Linked DNA regions of Homo sapiens: all the other regions are reported to be linked to region 4. Evidence: microRNA targets listed by miRTarBase, many of them from high-throughput screens and not tested one by one. Region 4 holds a microRNA gene; each other region holds the end of a gene's coding sequence.

Region 1 (4,208 bases), not on the chromosome of region 4:
CCTCTCAAGCCACTTCACTGTTTTCTTCATCACACTTTTCATCTTCCAACATTCTGTATGTTTAACTAAGTTTCTGTCCTCCTCATGAGAATATCAGGGCAGGATTTATTTTTTGATCACTGAGTCCCTAATCCCCAGTGCCTAGAACAGTGACCGGCAGACAAGAACTCAATCAATGTTAATTCAACACAACAAAGTACCAGGTGGCTGGCAAAGGGAAGTGGCCCTGCCGGGCTCAACCCTGCATGAGGACAGCTGGGGGAGAGGAAGGGAAAACCAACCCTTTGAATGACCTTCTCATGGGCCAGCCCCCAGCCAGGCCCCTTCACAGGCCATATTCTCAGAATGGTGATGATGCCAGCCTTGGTGATGATCCCAGACTCTGTACCCCACAGACCAGGTTTAAATCCTGACTGGGGGCTGGGCGCCATGGCTCACGCCTGTACTCCCAGCACTTTGGGAGGCCAAGGCAGGCAGATCACTTGAGGTCAGGAGTTCAAGACCAGCCTGGCCAACATGGTGAAACCCCGTCTCTACCAAAAATACAAAAATTAGCTAGGCATTGTGGCAGGCACCTGTAATCCCAGCTACTAGGGAGGCTGAGGCAGGAGAATCACTTGAACCCGGGAGGCAGAGGTTGCAGTGAGCCGAGATGGCGCCATTGCACTCCAGCCTAGGCAACAAGAGTGAAACTCCATCTCAAAAAAAAAAATTCCCAACTGGGCCACTCACTGGCTGTATGACTCTAGGAAAGTTACCTTCATCATTTCTAAAATGGGGACAAAAATATGACTTGGTGACGATTACAGGATGAGTGGGCTTCTCCACCCCACAGAAAGGATGCTTGACACGGGGAACAGGCAAAGGCAGCCAAGTCACAGGCCCCTGCCTTTCCCCAGGCCAAGCACTGGGCCAGGCTCACTGTGGGGCAGGGGGAGGTTCATGTACCCAAATGCACACAGCCCAGTTTCCATGCCCAGGAAGCCACAGACATCGAGAGACAGCCACACAGACACCCTCGTCCCACCACAAGGCAGAATATGGCATGGGCCAGGAGAAGTCCCAAGGGCTGGGAGGACCTGGTGGTGGGTTTCATGGAGATACGTAATATCTCAGCCAGGCTTCAAAGATCAGGAAGATTCAGGCAGGGAGAGCAGCCCAGGCAGGGGCCACATGAGCAGAGGAGCACAGCTAAGGGTAAACTGAAAGGCCACTGCCACTGCCCGCGGTGGGGAGGATGTGGCTGGGGGGATGGGAGAGTCAACACCTGGGAAGGCCTGGAGTAGAAAGCGGCATTGCCGCTGATTCCCATGCAGGGAGGCTGCCCTTCCCCCAGGGCACCGCCTTTGCCACTCAGGGTCCAGCTCCCCAGCCCCTACCCCAGTGGTGACAGACTGGCAGGCCTCCAAGTCCAATCTGCACCTTGTCAAAGACACCCTGTCGTAGAGAGTGGGAAGACCTTTTCCCAAGCAATGGCTCAGCCCCAGCCACACGTGCTCACCTAGCCGTGGCCAATCCGTACCTCCATGCTCACTCCACCATCCGGGCCTCCACTCCACAGGGGAGGGCCCTGGGCCCAGAGAGGCCACCCGAGTTGCCAGGGTCTCCTGGCTGACCAGAGCTTTGGGTTTCAACCAAACTACAGTGCCCTGCGCACCCTGCACTCCATCCTGGGAAAGCCTCTCTGGGTTCCCGGGACAGCCTGGGCCCACCGTCCACCCTGGCCTCATACCCAAGCACCGTCATCCTGCGTGGTCCAGTCTCTGAGACCCTCACCACCTCTCCCCTACACCCACTCCTTGTCTCTTCCCACTAAAGATGGGGCTGTGGCCCCCTGATCCACACCCCAATCCCCTCTCCCAGCTTCTCCATTCCCTTCTCCACCCACCACCCCAAATCCCCAGCCCTGACCCCTTCTTAAGCATTTTTCTTGTCAAACATGGAGATCCAGACCCACCCCTGGAGGCCACAGATCCCCTCCTTCCTGTCTGCTCCTCTCTCCTCCACTGCCCCTGCCCCCCACCCCCTACTCCAATTGGCCTCAGCCCTCTCTAAGTCAACTCCAAACCAGAGCTCCCATAGCCCTGCTCCCACATCCTGAGAGGCTCCCACAGCCTCCAGGGCACAGCCCAAGCTCCTTTGCGCTCCCAACCCCACCCCTGGACTTGCCCTTCCCAACCTCATTTCCGACCCCATCCAAGGTGGCCAGATCCAACCCATGTGCTGCCTCTGAGCTTTCGCCCTTGAGGCTACCCTACCTAGTTAGTACACCCACAACCCCAAGCCCCAGGGACCTGCCCAGCCTCATCACTGTGGCTGAGGACAGTCACCTGCACTTGGACACGTAGGTCCAATAAGTGGTTCCTGAAGAAAGGAATCCCAACTCCCAAGCTCAAGTGGCACTTCTTCCAGTAAGGCTGCCTGGATTGCTCCCAGTGGGAGCAACCATCCTCTCTCCAGTAGAGCTGTCTCAGGAACCTGCGTGCATACCAAGGGTTTGCTCTTGAGCTCCTGGGCTCAGCAGCCAGGCCCCTTCAGTCGGAGGCCACACCCTGCCAGTTTTGGTGCCCTGCTCCAGGGGACACTCCTCTGATGATCAGCTGTGGGCAGGGCTGAGCGTTGGGGTGGCCCATCTGTGGGGCCCTCCTCTGGTCATTCAGGGGCAGGTAAGGTGACGCCAGCACAGATGGCGGGCGGCTCTGGGAAGAGGCAGGCGGGAAATCCGACCCTCCTGACAGGCAAGCGGGGACCTGAAAGGTGGTATCCGCCTGAGCTGGGAGACAAATGAGGAGAGTGATGGGGACCCAGGCCAGGGATACAAGCAAGCAGAAGGCCACCAGCATCTATGACAAAAGTGTTTAATGCTCCATAATGTGCAGCTTCTAAGTGAAAAAGGCCCGTTAATCATCCACGGGCCGTACATTCTCATGACAGAGCAGCCGCCCTCCTCGGCCCCCCAAGAGGGAGGCATAGGCAGGGAGTGGGCCCTGTGAGGCACGGTCCTGAGTGTGCCCGCCAGGAACGCACACGTGTTAGTGCCCACATGAAACAGGGGTGGGGCGTGACATTTACACAGGAGAGAACCACAGACACCCATGTGAGGAGACACGAGGGGCACAGGTGACCATGGGCCAGGGAACACCCCAGTCCATGCATGGCTGAATCCACGAGGAGCGCGAGCTGGATGGTGGGAGTCACGCGGTAACGGGCTCAGGTCTCCTAGGAGCAGAACAGGCCCAGGTCCTCAGGAGACCTCGTGCCCAGGGCAGCGGGACAGACCTGAGCCTGCCCATGAGAACTTGAGTGTGCAAACCTGCGCACAGGTGTGAGAACAGACTCCAGGGCGAGTGTTTAAGGAGAAGACACAGACACACATAAGACCCACTAGTGGGAATGTGGAGACCCCAGGAAAGGTGGGGAGGCCCAGAGCAGCAAGTAGAGGGGAGTGGGCACTCTGTCCCGGGACTCCCATAGGCTCGGCAGGGCCAGAGACAGCCTTGGGGGTGAGAGGCCAGAGCCAAGGGCCCTGCATCTGAGAGTCCAAGGGTCTAGGAAGGCTCAGGGTGGGAGGGCCCAGCTTCACCATAGACACCAGGGTCCACGCTGGCTTGGGGAGAAGGTGCAGGTATCAGATGAGCCTCAGGCCTCACTGCTGCTGGGGCAGCCTCTGCTGCTGCCGCACTCCACCCACACGAGGCGGGCCTGCTCCTGCAGGATGCGGCCGCGCACCACCTTGGCCAGCTCCTCTGCGTGTCCCCACTCATGGGCGGGCACCTGCACCCAGGAGCAGGGCAGCCCCCAGAGCACCTGCTCTGAGCCACGGCACTGCCGCAGCAGCTCTGAGTCCCGCCAGCCCGGCCGGCCCAGCAGACCCCTGCCGAGAGAAGAGTGAGCAGCGGTCAAAGTGGGGGACCAAGACAGACAGAGAGACAGGGAGAGAGGGACAGACAAAGGGGGAAGAGTCAGAGAGAGAAGATGGACAACCAAAGAGAGACAGATGGCAGATGGAGATGGAGAGAGAGAGACAGAGAAGGGGAGGGAGAGACGGGGGAGGGAGGGGGGAGGGAGAGAGAGGGGGAGAAGGAGGGGGGAGGGGGAGGGAGAGAGGGGGAAGGAGAGAGAGGGGGAGGGAGAAAGAGGGGGAGGGAGAGAGAGGGGGGAGGGAGAGAGGCATCCTCAAGGAGGAAGCTCTCAGGTCCGAGTGCCCT
Region 2 (4,208 bases), not on the chromosome of region 4:
ACAGGATAAGTGGGGTCACAGGAGAGCTACCTGTCCCAGCCTCCATCCAACTCACCCAGACACTCCCTGCCTCCAGCACTTCCCAACTCTCCGGCTGGACCTCACCTTTCGGGATTTGTCAATGCGACAGAACTTCTGGACCACTTCCACAGGGACGGGGGCGGGGCCTGGGAATGGATCTTGGGTCTAGGGGAAAGGAGGACGCAATTAGCAGACAGCCTTGGATTGACCCCAACCCTCTCACTCTCAAGGAACGAGGCGGCCTGCCTCGCCACCCATCAGGTCCCACGCTCACCCCGGACAAGCCGCGCTGGGACTCCGGGTTCTTCCATTCTCGGGGTTTCTTCGGGACCTGAGGCTTCTTAGAGATCCGAGACTTCTTTAAGATGTAAGCATTTTTTGGTCTCTGAGGACGGAGCTCCCGATTCTTCTTGTTACGAGGAGGCCCTGGAGAGGCTCCGGCTGTGGTCGGAACGGTCTCTTCCTCCCAGTATCGCCGCGGTTTCTACAGGCACATCAGGAACTCCGCACTCACGCCCCGCCCCCCGACCCCACAGCTAAAAACTTCGTTTCCCACCCAGGGAGGCCTCTACCTTTCTCTTGGTCTGAAGTTTGTCTTTCTTGGGCGGGACATCCTTGCCCGGCTTGGGGGCTGTCTCCATCTCGCCCACCCGAACGGCGATCCACGTGCAAAACTCCTCTCAGCTGCCACACAGTCGGCTTGAAAACTCCCGGAAGCCCTCTGTCCTTCATCCAATCAGCAGCGTACCAGGTATGAAGCTCTCTAGGTGCCATCTTGAGTGAGGGCACGCTCTCCTTAGAGGGGCGGAACAGTTTTTGGCACCTTATCGCGAGCGGCAGCTTATGCAAGAGTGATTTAAAAAAGAAAGGCAGGTCCGGAGCCAGGGGCTAAGTAGCGGTGCGGTTTCTTTTTCTGGATTAGTTTCCCCATCTTGCCTAAAAATGTCCTAGTCTAGTCTTTTTAGCAGAACTCCACTCCCTAAACATGTCAGAACTACACTTCCCATCAAGGGTCAGAAAGAAACTTCCGGCACAGTCTTTTCCCAGCATTCCTTGTTTACTTCCGGGTTTATTACTACTGAAGGAAGAACGTGAGTAGGTTAGGATTTCGGTTGAGAGGCTTGGGGTCTTGCGTTTCGCCCACCATCTCCTGGGGACAGGGTGGAGTCGATATCCGGGACGGGGGGGAGGTTGCGGTGCCCCTCAGGGCTACCTCTCAAGAGTGCTATCATTTCCGCAGGCCAGATCAGAAAAGGGAGCTCAGGTACCTTCCAGAGAGTGAGACCCAGCGCCCTTGTCTCGCACCCAGTAGGCTTTCATCCCCGCCATGGCGGAGCTGATCCAGAAGAAGCTACAGGGAGAAGTGGAGAAATATCAACAGCTACAGAAGGGTAAGGGAACAGGGTCGGTATGGTCTCGCCCAATGCACTTACAACCCAAAGCCATTACCGAGATAAGGTTTGTTGCCCCATCTGGGCCCTCGCGTGCAGAGACTTCCCCGCCTCAGTCTCAGTACTCTTCCCTGTTCACTCACCCGCTGCCCCCATCCTTTTCTGCTTCCTCAGATCCATATCCACCTGACTAGGATTGTGGGGATAGGTGGCACATTTGATGTTTCTAAATTGCCTTTCCTCTCATCCCCAGACTTAAGTAAATCCATGTCGGGGAGGCAGAAACTTGAAGCACAACTAACAGAAAATAATATCGTGAAAGAGGTGAGGGACTGGGATTTGTGGGGCGAGGAGGGACCTGTACTAGCCATGGTTCTGATCACATATGTCCCATCCCTCCATCAGGAACTGGCCCTGCTGGATGGGTCCAACGTGGTCTTTAAACTTCTGGGTCCGGTGCTAGTCAAACAGGAGCTGGGGGAGGCTCGGGCCACAGTAGGGAAGAGGCTGGACTATATCACAGCTGAAATGTGAGTTTTTATTCCACCACCGTGTGCTGCACCCTGTGATGCAAGTGAACCATTGGAGTAGAGGTGTTGAACCATTGCAGAACAGCTCTCCATAGTGGCCCCTAGTCCTCCAGTTCCTCCAACCCTTTCCTTCCCTTTTAACCCCCCTTCTTCTCCCTCCCCTGGATCTCAAGTTTTCCACCTATCTCTTTCTTGCGTTTAGCACTCTCCATAGTGAGTCCTACTAATTTCTCCCTTTCTGCTTGTCTCCCTTGTCTCTCCTTAGTAAGCGATACGAATCCCAGCTTCGGGATCTTGAGCGGCAGTCAGAGCAACAGAGGGAGACCCTTGCTCAGCTGCAGCAGGAGTTCCAGCGGGCCCAGGCAGCAAAGGCAGGGGCTCCTGGCAAGGCCTGACCCCATGGTGGGGGGAGGGGAGGGGAGGGGAGGGAATGAGGCAGCTCTAGGATCTATACTGTAGCTAATAAAATGTAAAAACACCTGGCTCTGTTTCCTGACCAGGCACTTCTGTCATATCCCCACAGCCCCTTCCACCTTAACACACACCACCTGTATTACCCCCTCAGGTTCAAACTCTTGCACTTGGAATCTCTTTGTGGCACAGTGTTCTTTCTTGAAAGTGAAATCCTAAATGTCTTCAAACCTACTTCTTGCCTGTATATACAACCCTTAACTCTCCCTCATCTTGGTTGGCATGATTCTTTTGGAAGGGCATTTGCAACATACCATATTGCTAGGAATGTCGGTTTAATTGAAAAAGAATACACAGTTCTCTAACCTGAGGCCCCAGGATGAAATGTGGTTACCCTCCTTGCCAACAGCCCTGGCATCTCTATTAGTACTTTTCAGCCTCTGTCTTCCTAGAATTTGCTTGAATGTAGCTTTAAACTGACTTAAAATCCCAGCATGTAATGCTTTATGGTATTATAAGTCCTCCCAAGTTTATATGTTGTCCATAAAGTTGTTCTGCCATTTCCTTGTCCTAAAATTGTTTTATACACATTTGCAGCAAGGGACCAGTGGTAGAGAGGTTACTGGAGAGAAACTGTTCTGAGGAAACTTTTTTCACCAATACCTCACTTTTTGCTCTGTTCATGGGGACAGAAAACATTGTGCCCCTTCCTGTTCCATGGCATCTACCTTCAGCCAATTCCCCACCCCCACTCATAGCAGCCAGTTCATATGTACTGCAAGGACAGGGGAGTAGAATTCAGGTAGTGTTTTGGTTTATTATCTTAGTGTTGTCACAGTGATAGAAACCCCCAGAGTGGGAAGAAGAGCTCCTGCGAGGACCTACATTTTGCCATTCCCCTCTGCCCTGGGGCTCAGAGCCTTGAAGCCTTTGCTTGGCCCTTGCATGTTAGGATATGGCCAAGAATCAGAAACTGATGCGTTTTTCCAGCACTACCTGTGTGCTGCACTCATGGAAGGTGGGAAGCTATACACAGGTATCCAACTTGGTTATAAGACACCAGTTCCCACAGGGCTGGATTTCTCAGCTGTCTGGTAAACCAGTGGCACTTCACTGCCCCAGGGTGGCTGGCTCCCTTTCTGAATTTCTGTCTCAATGTGATATAATTGCCACCATTCAGGATGGCTACCCACATCTGGTATGAACACCATGACTTCTGTAAGCCAACGGGGCTTCCTCCTCAGAACAGTGCCCGTGCAATCTTCCTCCCTGTGGCCTTGATCCTGGGAAAGGAGCCCCCTCCTCCCTCACTCGGAGGAGTTCCTGAGGCAGACGGGCCACTGGTGACGCCAGGTGTAGCAGTAGAGGACCTTCGCCGCTGCCGCAGGAGGAAATCGTGTGAAGCTCCATCCATGGCGTAGAATACATTAGCCGAGGCTGGGATAGTCAGCTCTGAAGGTTCAGGGGATGGATGTAAAGCACACACACAGTTGTTCCCCCCACAGCCGCCCAGATGTGGAAGTACTCCACTCTCCTCCCGAGTCTGCCTTTCCCTCATGGCCTCTGACCTCGCTCCCCTGGTAGCAGCTGTACCAGCTCATACTCTGAAGCCACTGCAGAGTCACGATTGTTTTTCTTAAGGACACGACTGATGACACTTGGAGCCTTGTCCTGGCTTGTCACCTGGCAGAACAGGAGACCAAAAGAGCAATCAATCAGCCATGATTTCCCATCCTTCTACCCTCAGCCACTGAACCCAACCACAAAATGTTACTTGTGTCCAAGGCTTTAAAATGAACAGGAAAACCCAATATGGTGGCTTCCTATACCCCATAAGCCAGCCCACATGGTGCCC
Region 3 (4,207 bases), not on the chromosome of region 4:
CCAGGCTGGAGTGCAGTGGCGCAGTCTCAGCTCACTGCAACCTCTGCCTCCCAGGTTCAAGCTATTCTCCTGCCTCAGCCTCCAGAGTAGCTGGGATTACAGGCACACGAGGCTTGGCTAATTTTTTGTATTTTTAGTGGAGACGGGGTTTCACCATGTTGGCCAGGCTGGTCTCGAACTCCTGACCTCAGGTGATTCACCTGCCTCAGCCTCCTGAAGTGCTGGGATTACAGGCGTGAGCCACCACTCCCGGCCCAAAGCAACTTTTTAGTGTTAATTTCTCAACTCTGGCATTCCTAGACCACACAGGTGGCATGACTTTATTGTAGGAGTTCCACATTTACATAAGAGAGGCCTGAAAACGCAACGATCTCATGGGAAACTTGTTCACCACCTAAAGCTCAAAATTTCTCACCTCTCTCTGTTCCCCTGGGTGGAAATGTTTCTGTCCCTTTCTCTAAAGGTGTTGCATTTCTGTGGCCCCAACTTCATCATGCTTGACTGTAACCCTAACCCCCTGCCTTGTAAGGGATACCAACGCTCAACCCAGCCCTGCCCTCAGGCAGTTGCAGCACCAGCTCCTCTGTCCCCACCTTGGTTCTCACTCTCCTCTTCACTTCTGGCCTTAGGGGACTTAACTTATTTTCTGAAGAACTCAGCTATATATTTATTTTATTTTATTTATATATTTTTTGAGATGGAGTTTCACTCTTTTGCCCAGGCTAGAGTGTAATGGCGTGATCTTGGCTCACTGCAACTTCTGCCTTCCGGGTTTAAGCGATTCTCCTGCTTCAGCCTCCTAAGTAGCTGAGATTACAAGCGCCTGCCACCACTCCTGGCTGATTTTTGTATTTTTAGTAGAGATGGGGTTTCACCATTGGCCAGGCTGGTCTTGAACTCCTGGCCTCAGGTGATCCGCCTGCCTCAGCCTCCCAAAGTGCTGGAATTACAGGCGTGAGCCACCACGCCCGGCCTCAGCTCTATAGTTAAAAGGACATTTGTTTCTTACCCAGCATTTCTAGGTGTTTTGAAGAGGGAGACTTCTCAGGTTATCTAACCTGCTACTGAGAACTTAAAGATAGGGAAAATCTTGGACTGGAGATTCTTGGAATCACATAATTGAAAAATCCCAGCTGGGCGTGATGGCTCACGTCTATAATCCCAGCACTTTGGGATGCCGAGGCAGGTGGATCACCTGAGGTCAGGAGTTTGAGACCAGGTTGGCCAACATGGTGAAACTTCGTCTCTACTAAAAATACAAAAAAAAAATTGCCTGGCTTGGTGGTGGGCGCCTGTAATCCCCGCTACTCGGGAAGCTGAGGTAGGAGAATCGCTGGAACCCAGGAGATGGAGGTTGCAGTGAGCTGAGATCATGCCATTGCACTCCAGCCTGGGCAACAAGAGTGAAACTCCGTTGCAAAAAAAAAAAAAAAAAGAAAAGAAAAGAAAAGAGAAAGAAAAAGAAAAATCCCCACAGTGCAGATCGACAAAATCACAGAGTTGCTTTGGGAGCGAGGGTGGCAATCAGACACGGAGGCCATGACACAACCTGCTTATCCACTCAGGGGTCCAGAACCTCCACCCAGTCACCTTATCCGGGGGTGATGGAGACAGGGGAGGTGCCACCTACGCCAGTGTCATCTCTTACAATGAGCTCTTCTCCTGCTCGAAAAGAGCCAGCCTGCTGAGCTTGCTGCCAGGGCCCGTCGCACTGCCTGCGCTGTGTTGCCCGTCGCACAGCCTGTGATATGTGTTTCCCATCATGTGTGCATGTGTGTTGTCATGTAGTGTCTGTCACAGGTGTTACCCGTCACGTGTGTTTGCATGTTGCATGTGTGTGGCCTATCAGGTGTAAATATGTGTTGTCTGGCACATGTCAGCATCTGGGCATTCTCCGTGTGCCAGGAGCAGCCAGGTGGCCTGTGAAGCCTTCTCATGGGAAATGCCCAGATAGGAAGAGCACAGCCAGGAGCCAAGCCCCTGAGTGGCCACTCCATGTGCCTGGATCACCTTCAAGTCTGCTCAACATCACAGCCTCTGTTCCTTGGCACCATGGACATTGGAATTGACTCGGAACTGGGAAGAGCTGTAGGCCCACTATCCAGGCACCTGCTCCCCGTTTGCCCAGCATCCCAGGGGCCCACACCCTTCCAAATATCACCTTGCCCTCCATTCAGAGGTGAATCATCTGAGCGTCAGGTTGCCCAACTCCGACTGGTTTTGCTGGAGCCTGCCTAGAGGATGTCGCCAGCCACCTCCAGAGAACACTCAGTCTACAGATGCCGAGGGGGAACTGGAAGCACACAGTGCTGGCCTTCACCCAGGTTATGGTGGCACCTCGGGACCGCTTCTGAGTCTGCTTGTCACTGAAGGTCGGCGTGAGGCAGGCAGCGTTCCCTCCCAGATTTAGAAAATGTCAAGTCTCCCGCCGCACCCTTTTGTGTTTCTTACAGGGCCTGGTGCGCTTGCTGCCGCCACACTAAGGGCTCCAACATGTTCCCTCACACACTCAACAGAGAAGGAACCTGTGGCTCAGATGGCAGACTCCCTGTCCAAGGCCACAGAGTCTGGCCCCAGGGACCACTAGAGGCTTCAAGAACCAAACTCACATGAGGGCAGAGAGGAGAGATGGGGCCAGTTTAGGGCTGGGAGAATCCATAGAGCGATGCTGAGGCAGGCATGGAGCCTGGAGGTACGGACGAGGGTCTCGCCAAAGTCAGGGGTAAAGAGGCTGTGGGGAGTGAGGAATGGTGTGGGCCAGCCCCGGGCCTGCTGGGGTGCAGCTGGGGGCTCCATGGCCCTCCCACGGCCCCCACTTGTCCTCACCCAACCGTTCAGAGCTCTTCATGGCGGGGGTGTCCTCTCCTCTGGCCACAAGAGGAGCGGGTGGAGGAACGGCACCTTCAGGCCTTGTAGGGGGTCTGCCCCTCCACCAGCCTGTTTCTCGTGGGCATCGCAGCTGAGGCTGTAGCCGGGAAAGGGTAGTCACCGAGCGTACCTGGCCTCCAACCACCACTTCCAAGGCCCCTACTGGGCACAGGGTGACCCCACCGTGGCTCGGAAGTGGACCCTGTCCGACGCGGGGGTGGTCGCTGGAGGGCGGAGGATGCCTACACAGGCCTCTGGAGGGTGTGTCTCGGGAGTCTGTCTCGCCCTCTGGACCCATGGGGGACCAGCAACGCCGTCACACCCTCCTCTGTCTCTGCCAGCCGCTCCGCCGCTCCCTTCTCCTGGCTGGGGCTGGCAAAGGCAGGCAGGTATGGGGGGGCGGGGCCTCAGGAGGGAGGAAGGGCTGGTGGGCGGGGCCTACGGACACCTCGCCCCGCCCCCAGTAGGGCGCGGCACTCCCCACACCACGCGGTCCCCCTAGGTCAGGGCCTGTCACCACTGCGCCCAGAGGCCGGGCCAGCCGTGCGTGCATCCCAGGGCATCCGTGCATCCGTCCCCCGCGGCCTGGGACTCCCCAGTCAGGACAGTACAAAATCTCTTTATTGCTCATTTTCTGTAAAAAATCGTGGCTCTCGGCGGACCCTGGGGATAGGAGGTGCAAAGTGCGCTCACACGCGGCCCGGGTCCGCGGCCGAGAGCTGTGGGGATCTGGAGCGGGCCGGGTCGCAAGAAGACCCTGACCGTGCTCCGGCGCTGGGGCGCGTGCTAAGGGCCCGCGGGGTTTCAGCTGTATTTTCGAACCCCTGTGCTTGGCCGAGGGGTTCCCAAGGCTCCACTCCGCCTTGGAGGGGGCTGCGGAAGCCCGGAGGTGACCTGGGCTCTGGGAGGGGCGTCCCCAACGTGGGGGAGGGGAGACAGGGGCCTTTGAAGACAGCGCGGGACTCGGAGGGGGTCCCCCCGACCTCAGACGTGGTAAACTGAGGCCGGCGAGGAGGGAGGCTGAGTCCGGGGACCAGGCGGCCCCTCACTGCTCCTCCGGCCCGTCTCCCCCCTGCGCCTGTTCGTACGGGCAGGGCCGGCGGCCGAGTCCAGCGGGCTCGGGGCCAGGCCTGGGCCCTGCGGGCGGCGCCTCCTCCTCCGCGCCGTCCCCATGCTCGCCCTCCGCGTCGCTCTCGTCCGAGTTGTCCTCCTCCAAGTAGCGGTAACCGCGCACCTTGTGCTGGGGCCGCGGGATGCGGGGCTGGCGCGGGGCCACGCCCCGGCGCAGCTTCTGCTCCATCCGCAGGTAGGAGACCGCGGCCGCCACCAGCGTCACCAG
Region 4 (4,000 bases):
GCCAACATCAGACCCCGCAGGGTCCAAGAGGGAGGCTGCTGGCTGTGGGCAGGACATACCCTGCCTGGTCCCATGGCTCTGCCTCTCTGTGCATCAGGCCTGGGGCACAGCTGGCTGCCTGGATGAGGGGCACCTGTGGGTCCCTGGCAGGGCCGGAGAAGGAGGGGTGGGCCTGAGGTGTGGAATCATGGGGCTGTGTGCTGGGCAAGAGAAGCCTGGGAAGGAGCTGGCAAGAAGGCGGCATCTGGGGTGACCCCATGGCTGGGGCCTGGGTCGGGTGCTCTGAGCACTGTGGGCCGGGGGGTTTGGGAGCAGCTGAGAGCTCAGGCTTAGGTTTGGGCAGGCACTGTCCTGGAGACCCACCCCCTCCAACAACTTAGGACACCCCAGGAAGCATGTGGGGCCTGGCATCAGGAAGAAAGGCCACACAGAGTGCTCTGGAGGGCCAGAAGGGCAGGGAGGAAAGGGGCCAGGGAGCTGCCTTGTTTCGAGAGATCGTGGAAGTGGCTCAGTGGGGCAGACCTCAGCAGAGGGCTGAGAGGAGGGGCCCTGGGGGCCAGGGGACTCCCTGGGGACTTCTTAGCATGGAGAGGAGAGGACAGGGCCAGTGGAAAGTCGGGGCATTTCTCCAGGACTCCTGGACTGGGACCCCGTGGCCAGTAGAGGGACCCAGGTGCTTGGCTTCCCTGACAGTGGGGCCGTAAGTGGGAGGGTCTGGAGTGTCAGCCTGATGGCCCCTGCAGGCGCTGGTGGCCTTCCTCCTTCCTGCTCTGCACCCAGGGGCCTTGGAACCCCCAGCCTCTCCCTGCCCCACCTGCTTGGGGGTCCTGGCTCCCTGGAGGGTGTGGAGGGTGTGTGGTAAGGACGGAGCAGCAGTGCCTGGCCTGCCACAGCTGAGGGAGCAGATGTCCTGTCCACAGCCGGCGGACGTCTGGTTGGGGAGACAGCTGGCCTCATCTTGCTCCCGCCCTGCTGCAGGCTGCAGAGGGCCCCAGTGCCTGCCCTGGCCTGGGACCTTCCGCCGGCTGCTGGGGTGGCCCGGGCTGGGGGTGCCCTGCTCTGGGGTTTGGCCATCAAAGAAGCGTGTGGGTGACTCTTCCCCTAGGAAAGAGCACACAGGCACGGATACCTCCTGGAGGCTCTGGACCCTGGGGCAGGGAGGAGGTGATGCCTGTGGGAGGGTGGGGGCTGCGGGAAAGCGACACCTGTTGACAGGCCTCGGTCGCGCCACCTGATCCCAGCTGCGGCACGGGCTCCCTTTGTGCATTGTGCTGGGCGGCGGGGTCAGGACCGGTGCAGTTGTCTGGGACCAGGGTGGCTCCCGCAGCAGTGTCTGTGGGACTGGGGACTGAGCCAGGCCCCCAGAACCCAGAAGGCCAGCCACGAGTGGGGGTTCCCCAGACCCCATGCCTTCTGGCTGGAAGTTGACCTCTGATGGGGCTGACCCCTAGGGTCAGGTGAGGCCCTTGGGGCACAGTGGTGCCATCTCCCCTGTGCTCCCAGGGCCTCGCCTGTCCCTTGAGGTCGGCCCCAGCTGCTGCTTCTTGCAGGAAGCCCAGTGACTGCCCAGATGCCTCCTTCTCTCCCTGCATGCTCAACTCTGGGGTTTGCCAGGAGGGTCCCCATGGAGTCTCCTCAGATGCATCCTTCTCTCCCTGGTTGCTCAACTCTGGGGTCAGCCAGGAGGGTTCCCGTGGGGTCTCTTCAGATGCATTCTATTCTCCCTGGTCGCTCAACTCTGGGATCAGCCAGGAGGGTCCCCTTGTGTTCTCCTCAGATGCATCCTTCTCTCCCTGGTCGCTCAATTCTGGGATTGGCCAGAAGGGTCCCTGTGGGGTCTTCTCCAAGCTGCATTCTGTGTGCCCTCCTATCCCAAGACTCCCTCAAGCCTGAGGCTCTCCCTGCCAGGTGGATCTGTGTCACTCATTCACCTGGCAGCCCAGCCCCGGGTCCTACAGGACTCTGACTCTGGCAGGGCTGTGTCTACACTTGTGGCCAGACGTAGTGCAGTGCAGACCTGGCTGCCAGGCTGCCGCACCTTCCCGTGTGTGGACGATAGGCCAGGTGTTGATGGCCCCACCAGAGCAGCCATGCAGAGTGCAGCCCCGGCGGGGACGTGACCCTGGTTTTCCTTCAGGGGTCATATTCAAGCACATCCGTGGTCCAGGCCGGGCAGGGTGGCAGGTGGCTGGGGATGGTCTTGCTGTGCCTGCTGACCTGGGTGGCACTGGGCCGCCCCGGCCCCGTGACCTGCAGCCTGGGCCCTCCCAGGAGCCTGTTGCCCTCCCGGCATGGTCCTGGCTGGCTGGGCGCCGCTGCCCGCCAGAGGAAGCCCAGCTGTCCAGCTGGCAGTTGCAGCACCTCAGGACCAGTGGCCGGATGGGACGATGGAAAAAGGCAAGCCGCAGGCTGCATTTGTTTTTTTTAGCGATACCTGAGGTCAGTGCAGCCAGGGGAAGTGGGCTGGAGGTCTGGCCCAGGAGGAGCTGCTGCCAGAGCCTCCCAGAGCTGGAGAACGTCAGGGCCGGCGTCCCTCCTGGCCAGATGGGGACAGAGGCTGCAGACCTGGAGTCACTGTGGGGTGGGGAGGGGAGCCAGGTGGACTTTGGGATGCTCCCTCTGTGACACCTACAGGAGAGTGAGCTCCAGAAGGGATGACAGTGTGGGAGGTGACACTGGTGGCCACTGGAAGGTTGCGTGGCTCTCCCTGTCCTGCTGACCAGTTGTGTGGGTCTGCGGCTGTCTGGGAAGGCCATGGGGGGCTGTGGTCACTGAGCACAGAGGCCTCCTGGAAGCTTCTGCTCTTCACCTTTCCCCCGGGGGGTCCTGCGTGCAGCCTTGGTTGCCTGTCTTGCAGCCCACAGACCAGCCATGCCCCTTCTGGGGTCCAGGACCCTGCCCCAGAAAAGGGCAGTCAGCCCAAGTAGCCTGGGGGAGCTGGGCTGGCCTCTGTGGTCTGGTTTGGGGGACCCCATGGATGCTGCAGACACAGACAGGGCAGGGCTTATTCCAGGGGCTGCCATGGGACACGGTGCTTTCAGCAGGGTGGAGGGGGGTGTTTCTCTCAGGCCCGAGGATGCTTCACCTGGCAGGCACCTGGGCATCTGCACAGGCCACCCGTGCCATCCTTGCGGCATGTGCCCCACCTCCTGGGTGCAGCTGGGCCCTGGTGGCGTTGCAGCCCTGAGGGACACAGCAGACGTGCTTGGGCTGGAAGCTGGGCTCGGGCTGGGTTGATTTGCAGACCACGGGGAGGGTGGAGAGTTGATCTCAGCCCCGGTTTCTCAGTGCTAGAATTTGTTTTGATTTTGTTTCACACAGAAATTAAACGCTGTCTGGCAGGACTGAGGTTTTGCTGGCGGGGTGTTGTGGCTTCTGGAACTGCAGTCTCTTCTCCCTCTGCCCCAGCCTGGGGGAGAAAGCTGGGTCCCGGTCAGGGTGGCTAGACCTGCTGGCAGGAGGCAGGAAGGTCGGAGTCCGGCCTTGGTGATGTGTGCTCCCTCCGTAGGACTTCCTGTCTATTGTGCTGGGAGCTGGAAGGAGCCTGTGGCTTTAGGGACCTGGCAGTGTGGGGTGGCTGTCCCTGTGTGTTTCAGGTTCTCTCTGGGGACAAGGCCCGTTTAGCTGCCCTCAGGCTCAGGGCAAGGTGTCTTGAGTGGGTCCTCCCAGGGTGGCCCAATCCCCAAGCAGCCAGGACATGGCAGCATCAGGCCTAGCCAGAGGAGCGGGGGGCCGTCCCCAGACTCAGCACCATGTGTGCTAAGCTCCACTCCTGTGGGGCTGGGGAATGGTCTCCACGGAGCTTCTGCAGGGGTCAGTGCTGACCACCGCGGCCAGCTTCCAGGGCTCAAGGAGGCGACCGGGTCACCGCTCCCTGGAGCCACCTCCCCCGTGGTTCCTGAGACCAGCACTGTCTGCGGCCCCATCTGCAGCGTGGAACTGTTCTGTGTGCCCTGTGGCATGGCAGCCGCAGCCACGTATGGGTGTTGAGACGTCTTCC

What was found. The annotated mature microRNA hsa-miR-5008-5p reads UGAGGCCCUUGGGGCACAGUGG and lies in region 4 at 1,459-1,480, shown strand. An mRNA with a match to its seed (bases 2 to 7 or 8) in the 3' UTR can be bound and repressed. Matches are read on the target gene's strand: a 7mer-m8 pairs with bases 2 to 8, a 7mer-A1 pairs with bases 2 to 7 and ends in A, and an 8mer does both.
Region 1: the mRNA of CARD10 is a reported target of hsa-miR-5008-5p. Seed matches in the 3' UTR shown: 7mer-m8 at 3,419-3,425.
Region 2: the mRNA of RGL2 is a reported target of hsa-miR-5008-5p. The part of its 3' UTR that is shown has no 7-base or 8-base seed match.
Region 3: miRTarBase lists UNC93B1 as a target of hsa-miR-5008-5p. Seed matches in the 3' UTR shown: 7mer-A1 at 3,868-3,874.

The regions. Positions count from the first base shown.
Region 1 is chr22:37,487,520-37,491,727 of GRCh38, forward strand. It overlaps CARD10 (caspase recruitment domain family member 10), which reads right to left. Exons shown (of 20, transcript NM_014550.4): 20 at 2,843-3,874. The coding sequence ends at 3,640. Among named protein-coding and RNA genes, the nearest start is that of MFNG, 3.2 kb to the left of the region's middle. RefSeq lists an enhancer at 1-267.
Region 2 is chr6:33,288,509-33,292,716 of GRCh38, forward strand. RGL2 (ral guanine nucleotide dissociation stimulator like 2) reads right to left here. Exons shown (of 18, transcript NM_004761.5): 17 at 3,922-4,036; 18 at 3,146-3,805. The coding sequence ends at 3,594. WDR46 (WD repeat domain 46) reads right to left here and starts at 731. Exons shown (of 15, transcript NM_005452.6): 1 at 594-731; 2 at 296-505; 3 at 106-186. The coding sequence starts at 662. It overlaps PFDN6 (prefoldin subunit 6), which reads left to right and starts at 1,093. Exons shown (of 4, transcript NM_001185181.3): 1 at 1,093-1,412; 2 at 1,666-1,736; 3 at 1,818-1,942; 4 at 2,208-2,425. The coding sequence starts at 1,349. The coding sequence ends at 2,337. It overlaps MIR6834 (microRNA 6834), which reads left to right and starts at 1,737; the gene lies at 1,737-1,817. RefSeq lists an enhancer at 326-859.
Region 3 is chr11:67,987,633-67,991,839 of GRCh38, forward strand. It overlaps UNC93B1 (unc-93B1 regulator of TLR signaling), which reads right to left. Exons shown (of 11, transcript NM_030930.4): 11 at 3,468-4,207. The coding sequence ends at 3,914. Among named protein-coding and RNA genes, the nearest start is that of UNC93B1, 14 kb to the right of the region's middle. RefSeq lists an enhancer at 3,600-4,205.
Region 4 is chr1:227,939,121-227,943,120 of GRCh38, reverse strand. MIR5008 (microRNA 5008) reads left to right here and starts at 1,438; the gene lies at 1,438-1,531. All of the region lies in intron 1 of WNT9A (Wnt family member 9A), which reads left to right. RefSeq lists an enhancer at 89-991.